3 linked regions of the Homo sapiens genome follow. The protein of the gene in region 1 interacts with the protein of each later gene in a biochemical or structural test. Each region holds a gene or a part of one and is shown in the gene's direction. Other genes may lie near its edges.

What was found.
Region 2: of the proteins of PRKCI (region 1) and GLI1, one has a biochemical effect on the other in vitro, tested with the Homo sapiens proteins (one study listed by IntAct).
Region 3: the proteins of PRKCI (region 1) and FRS2 form a complex in vitro, tested with the Homo sapiens proteins (one study listed by BioGRID).

Annotation. Positions count from the first base shown.
Region 1 is NC_000003.12:170,220,800-170,224,553, forward strand, and holds the start of PRKCI (protein kinase C iota type), read left to right. Parts: upstream 1-1,624; 5' UTR 1,625-1,870; coding exon 1,871-1,971; intron 1,972-3,754.
Region 2 is NC_000012.12:57,469,784-57,472,921, forward strand, and holds the end of GLI1 (zinc finger protein GLI1), read left to right. Parts: intron 1-533; coding exon 534-2,278; 3' UTR 2,279-2,485; downstream 2,486-3,138. Other genes in the region: ARHGAP9 (rho GTPase-activating protein 9), read right to left, coding at 2,734-2,905. UniProt on the Homo sapiens protein: Acts as a transcriptional activator. Binds to the DNA consensus sequence 5'-GACCACCCA-3'. Regulates the transcription of specific genes during normal development.
Region 3 is NC_000012.12:69,564,348-69,568,101, forward strand, and holds part of FRS2 (fibroblast growth factor receptor substrate 2), read left to right. Parts: exon of another isoform or gene 1-2,293; intron 2,294-3,754. UniProt on the Homo sapiens protein: Adapter protein that links activated FGR and NGF receptors to downstream signaling pathways.

The DNA of each region.
Region 1 (3,754 bases):
CAGGTCTCCAATTACTGAAAAACCTGATACCAAGTTTTTCAATGGGATTTTTTTGTTTGTTTAAGAGATGGGGTCTCACCATGTTGCTCAGGCTGGCCTTGAACTCCTGGGCTCAAGTGATCCTCCAGCCTCAGCCTCTCAAAGGCTGGGACTACAGGCATGTAGCACTTTGCCTGACTCAAGGGGAATTTTTAGTAAGAGTATATAATCCAAGTCTGTAGCAGTTGGAGGATGTCGTACCACGCTGAAGTGTCACACATAACTGATGACTCAGTCCCCCAAGCCTATTTTATCATCGTAAAGAAAGCTATTTCTTTGATTATTCCAACTCTTTCAGCACCAGGACTGCTGCAGGGGCTGGATTCATGCTACCTGTAGTTGCAGTGTAAATTATGTGTCAGAGCCAAGATCCTAGGAAAGTCAAAGACTAGGTTACAAGAGCGATTCTTTTTTTTTTTTTTTTTTTTTTTTTTTGAGACAGAGTCTTGCTCTGTCGCCCAGGCTGGAGTGCAGTGGCACAGTCTTGGCTCACTGCAACCTCCGCCTCCCTGGTTCACGCCATTCTCCTGCCTTAGCCTCCCGAGTAGCTGGGACTACAGGCGCCCGCCACCACGCCCGGCTAATTTTTTGTGTTTTTAGTAGAGACGGGGTTTCACCGTGTTAGCCAGGATGGTCTCGATCTCCTGACCTTGTGATCCGCCCGCCTCGGCCTCCCAAAGTGCTGGGATTACAGGCTTGAGCCACCGCGCCCGGCCAAGGACGATTCTTTCTAATCTTTGGTAAGCCAGTTTTTACAGAATGAAATGCTCTTGGATTGACTGACTTGATTGGGTAAGTATTCATTGGGCTCTTGTTCCATGCAAGGGCAGTCTACAAGGGCCTAGATATGGGGGCCCCCAAAGAAGAAAAATCGGTTTTTCATCATATTTTCTGGTTGAGTTTCTTCCTTTATTATATTTGTTACATATGTTATTAAATTATTTCCATAAAAGAGGTTATGCTGAGCAGGTAACCAAATTCTTGTTCCCCCAAAAGACATGTATAATTCAGACGATTTATGCAATTAGAAGAAGGGAGACTTCATCAGTTAATAAAGTCTAGAACGTGAGGAAGCCCAGTCATTTCCAGGACCTTCAGATGCCCAAGCTGGATCCAGGTTTTCCACCCCGACAGCTCCAGGGAGCACGCTGGAGAGACAGACTTCACCAGCGGGAAGGCGCGGCACCCTACGCGCAAGGAACCTCAAGTCCCAGAATCCTATGAGGACTCCAAATCCCAGAAACCTGCACGCAAATCTATCCCGGGTGCCAAGTCGGCCGACCGCAGACGTGACCAAGTTGCGAGGCTAGGGTGAGGTGTCGTAGAATTTGTCCCTACCATTGTCCCTGCAGGGAAGAGACTTTAGTGATCTAGAGCTGGTCATTGTCTCTTTCACAGCTCGCGTGAAAGCACCCCTCTCGGCGTGTTTGATGCCATGATCAGCGTCTCCCATTCCCTCTGTCCCCTTTCTCTGCCCCCGTAAGGATGGTTCAGCCCGGTATTGAGGCTCCTTGAGCTGGCTGGATGGTTGCGCCCGCCCTACCCCGGAATGTGGGCCTTTGGAGCGAGCGAAGTGGGAGGGACCGACGCAGGAGGTGTCTTGGGCCCGGGCGGCTGTAGAGGCGGCGGCGCCTACGGGCAGTGGGAGGAGCCGCGCGGTTCCGGCTGCTCCGGCGAGGCGACCCTTGGGTCGGCGCTGCGGGCGAGGTGGGCAGGTAGGTGGGCGGACGGCCGCGGTTCTCCGGCAAGCGCAGGCGGCGGAGTCCCCCACGGCGCCCGAAGCGCCCCCCCGCACCCCCGGCCTCCAGCGTTGAGGCGGGGGAGTGAGGAGATGCCGACCCAGAGGGACAGCAGCACCATGTCCCACACGGTCGCAGGCGGCGGCAGCGGGGACCATTCCCACCAGGTCCGGGTGAAAGCCTACTACCGCGGGTGAGTGTCCTGGGACAGGGCGGTGGGCGGGAGGGGACAGGCCGGCTCCACTCGGCCTGGAGGAGGGGAGGGTGAGGGGCTGGAGGTGTTGTGGGCGGATTGGGCTGGGCGGGCGGGCGGCTCCGGTGACTCAGGGTGAGTGACGAAGTGATAGGGGTGGGGGCGAAGCAAGGGGATGCAGTACTGGGGGCGCCCCCAGGTATGGCGGTGCGGGGAGCCGAGGGGCCAGAGTAGGGTCCGAGAAGGAAGCTAGGGTTAGAGTAGGTGCACCTGGTGTGGACGAGAGACTCGCCTCCTGAGAGCTTTGTAGGGGCCTTGCATCCTTAAGTCTGGGTGTATTTGGGGTTGCGAGTTGAGGATTCCAAGTGATGCCTTAGTTAACTCAGTTTGCTGTGGGGATAGAAAACGGGACTTCTTCAGTTAGCTGTCCGTTTTGATTACCAGCAGGCCTAACGCCTCTGGTTCTCTGAGATATACCTCCATCCCCGTTGTGTTCACGTAGTGTATCTGCACTGCCAGTATATTAGACATAGGGGTTGTATTTAAGAATCAAGTCGATGCGTTTTCAGGGACGTGCAGTGGGTACTTACGTGTCGTCAAGATTAAGTTGCATGTGTGTAAATCAAAATTTTGTGAGCCTTTCTTTCTCAGTGTTGTTTCAACGACTACCCGATAGGGTGAGATACTGCAAGGTGAGGAGACTAGCCTAGTTACAGTTTTAAATTCTCTGATCTTCACTCCCTTACTATGGTTACAAGAAAAAACCCAGTTCTAAGTTCATTGTGTTAAATCATTTTCTATCAGTGACGCAAAGTGCCCCCCTTCCTTTAAATTCAGTTGTGGTTTGAATTTTTTTTTGAGATAATTATGTTTAGGAGCATTAGAAACGTGAAATGTTAGTGTGACCATAAAGGTTGGAGACTGAGAAGTCACAGAAAACCCAGCTACTTTGGCTTGCCTTACTGCTTGTCCAGGTAGAAGTAAATTGCTTTAAAAAACTCAAGCAGTGCTAGGTTGAAATTTTAATGCATACTTTTACATTCCTGAGAGGATCAGTGAAGATAGCAAACTCTCAAACTACCTCTCTTGTTTTGATTTCAAAGAAAATCTGAGCCCCTAAATGTTGTATTGATTTGATGTAAGGACTTTTTTTTTTATTATTATACTTTAAGTTTTAGGGTACATGTGCACAATGTGCAGGTTAGTTACATGTGTATACATGTGCCATACTGGTGTGCTGCACCCATTAACTCGTCATTTACATTAGGTATATCTCCTAATGGTATCCCTCCCCCCTCCCCCCACCCCACAACAGTCCCCAGGGTGTGATGTTCCCCTTCCTGTGTCCATGTGTTCTCATTGTTCAATTCCCATCTGTGAGTGAGAACATGCGGTGTTTGGTTTTTTGTCCTTGATGTAAGGACTTTTAAATTTGCTGCCATGAAGCCTCTGGCCTCTGTTTATTATTAGCTTGACTGTATGCAGGAGTAGTTTATTGGAGTTATATTGGACAGTATGATAACTTTGTGTTTAAGCAGGTAAAACTGATTAAGGAGGTTTTTATTTTAAATCAGTACCAAGAAACGTGTGGATATTTTTTAAAGTTTGTAGTTGTCACAAGAGCTGTTTTGACTTGAGGATGGTCAGCCATGAACTTTGCAAGGTGAGAAAAAAGCTTCCTTTGCTTTTTTTTTTTTAAACCCTTACCTGTAATTTGATGAATGAGATGTTTCACTTTATTCTTTTATTTTATTTTTGTTTGTTTGTTTTTGAGACAGGGTCT
Region 2 (3,138 bases), on another chromosome or scaffold:
TCACACAGCACTTTTGTATAATTAGAAAATGGTGTCCTTCCTCAAGACACTTTCCATTTATCAGAAAATAGTTGTGATGTACAAACATGCAAAGGCTAGCCAGGCATGGTGGTGGGCACCTGTAATCCCAGCTACTCAGGAAGCTGAAGCAGGAGAATTGCTTGAACCTGGGAGGCAGAGGTTGCAGTGAGCTGAGATTGCGCCATTGCACTCCAACTTGAGCAACAAGAGCGAAACTCTGTTTCAAACAAAACAAAACAAAACAAACAAACAAACAAGTATGCAAAGGCTATGATGCGAATGCTGTTCCCTAGGATTGTGCAGCACACAACCTGCACAACTGTTCATAGCAACCCTGAATCCTTGGTAACCCAGAAACAGAATAGGCATGGGAGAAGTAGGAGACAGAACAGACTGGTTAGGGATAACGAGCTTACCCCTGAGAATCCAGGGCAAGGCTGTTGCATGGAGGAGGCAGGGTGAAATTTAGGAAGCTCCTTGACCATCCTACCTTTTCTCCCCATCACTTGCAGGTACCACTGTGTCCCGCCGCGTGGGCCCCCCAGTCTCTCTTGAACGCCGCAGCAGCAGCTCCAGCAGCATCAGCTCTGCCTATACTGTCAGCCGCCGCTCCTCCCTGGCCTCTCCTTTCCCCCCTGGCTCCCCACCAGAGAATGGAGCATCCTCCCTGCCTGGCCTTATGCCTGCCCAGCACTACCTGCTTCGGGCAAGATATGCTTCAGCCAGAGGGGGTGGTACTTCGCCCACTGCAGCATCCAGCCTGGATCGGATAGGTGGTCTTCCCATGCCTCCTTGGAGAAGCCGAGCCGAGTATCCAGGATACAACCCCAATGCAGGGGTCACCCGGAGGGCCAGTGACCCAGCCCAGGCTGCTGACCGTCCTGCTCCAGCTAGAGTCCAGAGGTTCAAGAGCCTGGGCTGTGTCCATACCCCACCCACTGTGGCAGGGGGAGGACAGAACTTTGATCCTTACCTCCCAACCTCTGTCTACTCACCACAGCCCCCCAGCATCACTGAGAATGCTGCCATGGATGCTAGAGGGCTACAGGAAGAGCCAGAAGTTGGGACCTCCATGGTGGGCAGTGGTCTGAACCCCTATATGGACTTCCCACCTACTGATACTCTGGGATATGGGGGACCTGAAGGGGCAGCAGCTGAGCCTTATGGAGCGAGGGGTCCAGGCTCTCTGCCTCTTGGGCCTGGTCCACCCACCAACTATGGCCCCAACCCCTGTCCCCAGCAGGCCTCATATCCTGACCCCACCCAAGAAACATGGGGTGAGTTCCCTTCCCACTCTGGGCTGTACCCAGGCCCCAAGGCTCTAGGTGGAACCTACAGCCAGTGTCCTCGACTTGAACATTATGGACAAGTGCAAGTCAAGCCAGAACAGGGGTGCCCAGTGGGGTCTGACTCCACAGGACTGGCACCCTGCCTCAATGCCCACCCCAGTGAGGGGCCCCCACATCCACAGCCTCTCTTTTCCCATTACCCCCAGCCCTCTCCTCCCCAATATCTCCAGTCAGGCCCCTATACCCAGCCACCCCCTGATTATCTTCCTTCAGAACCCAGGCCTTGCCTGGACTTTGATTCCCCCACCCATTCCACAGGGCAGCTCAAGGCTCAGCTTGTGTGTAATTATGTTCAATCTCAACAGGAGCTACTGTGGGAGGGTGGGGGCAGGGAAGATGCCCCCGCCCAGGAACCTTCCTACCAGAGTCCCAAGTTTCTGGGGGGTTCCCAGGTTAGCCCAAGCCGTGCTAAAGCTCCAGTGAACACATATGGACCTGGCTTTGGACCCAACTTGCCCAATCACAAGTCAGGTTCCTATCCCACCCCTTCACCATGCCATGAAAATTTTGTAGTGGGGGCAAATAGGGCTTCACATAGGGCAGCAGCACCACCTCGACTTCTGCCCCCATTGCCCACTTGCTATGGGCCTCTCAAAGTGGGAGGCACAAACCCCAGCTGTGGTCATCCTGAGGTGGGCAGGCTAGGAGGGGGTCCTGCCTTGTACCCTCCTCCCGAAGGACAGGTATGTAACCCCCTGGACTCTCTTGATCTTGACAACACTCAGCTGGACTTTGTGGCTATTCTGGATGAGCCCCAGGGGCTGAGTCCTCCTCCTTCCCATGATCAGCGGGGCAGCTCTGGACATACCCCACCTCCCTCTGGGCCCCCCAACATGGCTGTGGGCAACATGAGTGTCTTACTGAGATCCCTACCTGGGGAAACAGAATTCCTCAACTCTAGTGCCTAAAGAGTAGGGAATCTCATCCATCACAGATCGCATTTCCTAAGGGGTTTCTATCCTTCCAGAAAAATTGGGGGAGCTGCAGTCCCATGCACAAGATGCCCCAGGGATGGGAGGTATGGGCTGGGGGCTATGTATAGTCTGTATACGTTTTGAGGAGAAATTTGATAATGACACTGTTTCCTGATAATAAAGGAACTGCATCAGAAAAAATACCATGCCACTTTATGTATTATTATGTTGGGGAGGAATGATAACAGGGAACAAGAAGAGAAGCAGGGGTTAATCCACTCACTTTCCTCTTTAGAGAAGCTCCCTCACCCATCCCAACACCTCAAGTCACACTCATGAAGATAGAGACAGTCATTTGGGAGATTTAAAGGGATATCCTCAAAACAGAACACCAGCCTCTCACCACCAGAGATGACCGGAAATATGTTTTCTCTTCTTCCTTCCCTGCATCAGGGGAAGAGGCTGGTGAAGTTGGTGAGCATCAGCTGGACCAGCTGCCCTGGGTAGAGAGCATGGGCTGCTGGGTCAGATGTCTCCTGCTCTGGCCGAAACAGGGTTGGTCCAAACACAATTCCCAGGTTGTGGGGTGTCATGCGATTCTTATCTGAGTGTGCTATCACCCTGTAAGCAAAGGCCAAGGAAGGGGATATATGGCAGCAGCTTGCCACTTCATAGCAATCTAACTAACCCTTCAAAGTTCTGAGCAGGGAAGAGTTCACTCTGGGATTCCTCCACATGGTAACAAAAAAACCAAGGAGATACAAGGAGAATGGAGATGGACCAGTGGAGAAACCTTCAGGATACAACCTGAAGATATAACTGCCTCTTCCGACTTCAGGGGCTGCCCCAAGAGT
Region 3 (3,754 bases), on another chromosome or scaffold:
TGAGCCAGTGTTCAAGAGCTTAAAATGTGACATGTGTTCTAATGTTTTACCTTCTCCCTCAAACACATACTTATGTACTTAACTATTGCACTTGGACATTTCCCTGGGCTCTCAGTTTAACATATCTGAACAAATCATTATCACTTCCTCTTGAAGACTACAGTTTTTTGTATCTCAGGTAATAGACCCCTGGCACCCTTTGTCTGCCATGCTGGAAACTGCCTCTGTTTTCCATTATGTCAAGTCAGTTCTTTGGTGCCACTGACTTTTCCTCTTAAATGTTCCTTAAATTTATTCTTTTCTTCTTCATTCCTACCATTGCTGCTCTTGTTTTAGGTTTTTATCATATTTCATTTTTTAATAATCTCAAACTGATTTTCTTTCCTCTGAGCTAAACTCCTACTTAAATTTATCATACATATGTTTATTTAAAATGCACTTCTGACCGTCTCACTTTTCTACTTAAAATACATCAGTGGTTTTCCATCATGTGTAGGATAAATTCCTTTCTCTTTGGCATGGCATACAAGGCTTTCATATCACATATTAGGCATTTCATTAATTATTGTTGTATTGAACTCAAACATTCAGTGTGGATAGAGTCCCCAAGTAGGTTGCACTGCCACTCATATATCACTTAATGGTGGAGATTCCTTCTGAGAAATGTGTCATTAGACAGTTTCGTCACTGCGCAAACGTCATAGAGTGTACTTACACAAACCTAAATGGTATAGCCTACTATACACCTAGGATATATGGTATAGCCTATAGCTCCTACTCAACAAATCTGAGCAACATCACTGTACTGAATACTATAGGCAGTTGTAACACAATGGTAAGTATCTGCATTTCTAAACATAGAAAAGGTACAGTAAGAAAACTATAAAAGAGAAAAAATGGTACACTTGTATAAGGCACTTGCCGTGGATGGAGGTTACAGAACTGGAAGTTGCTCTTGGGTGAGTTGGTTAGTGGGTGGTGAGTGAATGTGAAGGCCTAGAATGTTATCGTACACTACTGTAGGCTTTATAAAACTGTACTCTTAGGCTACGCTGTTTGTTTAAATAATTTTTTCTTCAGTAATAAATTAGCTTACTATAACTTTTTTACTTTATAACCTTTTAATTTTTTGAAACTTTTTGACTCTCTTATAATATTTAGCTTAAAACACACACATTCTACAGCAGTACAGAAGTATTTTTTTATATCCTTTAAGATTTTTTTCTGTTTTTAAAATTTTTAATTTTTTTTTAACCTTTAAAACTTCTGTTAAAAACTAAGACAAAGACACAAACACACACATTAGCATGGGCCTATACAGGGTGAAAATCATCCATATCACGGTCTTCTCCTCCTACATGTTGTCCCACTGGAAAGTCTTCAGGGGCAATAACATGGAGCTGTCATCTAGGAAAACTGCACCTTCTTCTGGAATACCTCCTGAAGGACTTGCCTGAGGCTGTTTTACAGTTAATTTTTTTTTTAATAAGTAGAAGGAGTATACTCTGATATAATAGTAAGATACATAGTATAGTAAATACATAAACCAATTACATAGTCATTTATCATTATCAAGTATTACGTACTATACATAATTGAATGTGCTATAGTTTTATACACTGGCAGTGCAGTAGGTTTTTTTTTATACCAGCATTATCTCAAACACATGAATAATGTGTTGCACTGTGATGCTGTGATAGCTATAGTGTCAGTAGCTGACAGGAATTTTTCAGCTCCCTTGTAATCTCAGGGAACCACTGTCATATATGTAGTCTGTTGCCAACCAAACATTTGTTATGTGGCTCATGACTGTATATCCCTGCCAGCACGAGAGGTTCTACCTTAACAGGTAGCTTATGAAGATGCCAAGTGGAAGGATGATTTTCCTGCTCCTTTTGAGAAAAAAAAAAGTTTAAAAACATTCCTTTGGAGCATCATCTTTTGAAGCAAAAGCCATACTGTAGTAATCTTTTAGCTCTTCATATTTCACAAGGAGGTCGGGGAGAACAAATATGTACTTTCAAGAAGACTTTTAAAAAATGTCTCTATCAATTATCCCTTTACTTAAAATTTCTTATATTACTCATCCTATAATTTATTAATATTAAACATTTACTATTTTTTAAAAAATTAAATGTTTATAGAATATGTGCCATGTCTGAGGCAGGAGAATCTCTTGAACCTGGGGGGCGGATATTGCAGTGAGCCGAGATCACGCCATAGCACTCCAGCCTGAGCAACAAGAGCGAAATTCCGTCTTGGGGGATTTAAAAAAAAAAAGAATATGTGCCATGTAAGTTGGTATGCTTAGTGCCCTGGAAAATGAACAAGACAAGATTTCCTGTCTTTAAAGAGATCACAGCAAAGTGGATGGTGCAGAAAGATAAACATTGCAGTAGAGTACGATAAAGGCCACAATAGAGTTATGCCATTCTATTGTGGGAACACTAGAGGCAGGCTATCTTCGAGTTAACTGGAAGATCAAGTCTCAAATCTAGGGAACATGTCCCTAGCTTGTTCAGGCTGCTTTATGGTTGGGCCCCATTTGTCTTCCAGTCTACCCTGTAGTCCAGTCATACTGAACGCCTCACTTTCTCCTGAATGTGGTGTGACACTTCATGACTTTTGTCTGTCTCAGGTGCTTATTTCTCTTTATTTTGCTTAGCATGTTGTTTCTGCTCTTCTTTTAAATCCCAGCTCAATTAGTGCTTCCTGTCCTGCCTAACCCAGAAAGTTAGTTGTTCCCTTTCATGTGCCCACAGTACTCTGCTCATATCCTAATATAAGGTTTATCGCAGTGCATTATCTATTTACATCTCTCTCTCTCTCTTTCTCTCTCTCCCCCTTGATACTCACAGCTCTTCAAAGACAAAGATGGTGACTTATGTGTCCTTGTACTATGATACTTAGCTGGCATATTAGTTAAAGCAAAAATACCAAATATCATGAGTCTTAATTAACTTTACTATTATATGTTATCATATACACTCTTGGTTTATACGCTAGTACACTTTTTCATTTTCTTAATACTTATACCTGCTAGGGATCCTTCACATTTGTTTAATACAGTCCATTTAAATCACAGGTCCTATAGCACCTTCTGTATGCTAGGTATCGTGTTAGGTACTAGGAATGTAAAAATGAGTAAGGTTCATCCTTGCTGACAAGGGGCTCACAATGGAGGAGAAAAGACAGATAAACAGATACCTGCCACAATTTCTACTCAGTACAAAGTGTGATAGATGCTATGATACTAGGAAGCCCAGGGTGCTTTGGGTTAGCATATGCATGACGGTCATACATAATAGTATAACTTGCCTAGTTGCTTGGAGTCAGGGAAAGCATCCTAGAGGAACTGCACTTTGAGTTGAATCTTGAGAAAGGAAAGAAGCAGAAAGGGAGCAGCTTGGAAGGATGTGAGAGACCAGGATGCTCTGGGGAAACTGCAGCTTGTTTATTCTGACAGGACTAAGAATAGGGCTTGAAACAGAAAGCAGGGAGAGTCTAGACTGGATCTGTTAGACAGGGATTACATTGTATCTGATCGGATCTATCATACTGAAGAGTTTATACTGTTAAACTGAAGATAGTGGAGAGCCACTGAATAATTTTCAACAAGCTTCAATCAAATTTATGTTTGTAATGTTTTGTAGCTTCTGTGCTTCCTTCCCTCCTCCTTTTTCATATATTGTCATATTCTATCTGATTATTTCCCTTGTTTGTAAGTGATGCTTTGGAGTTTTCTTTGTCTGCT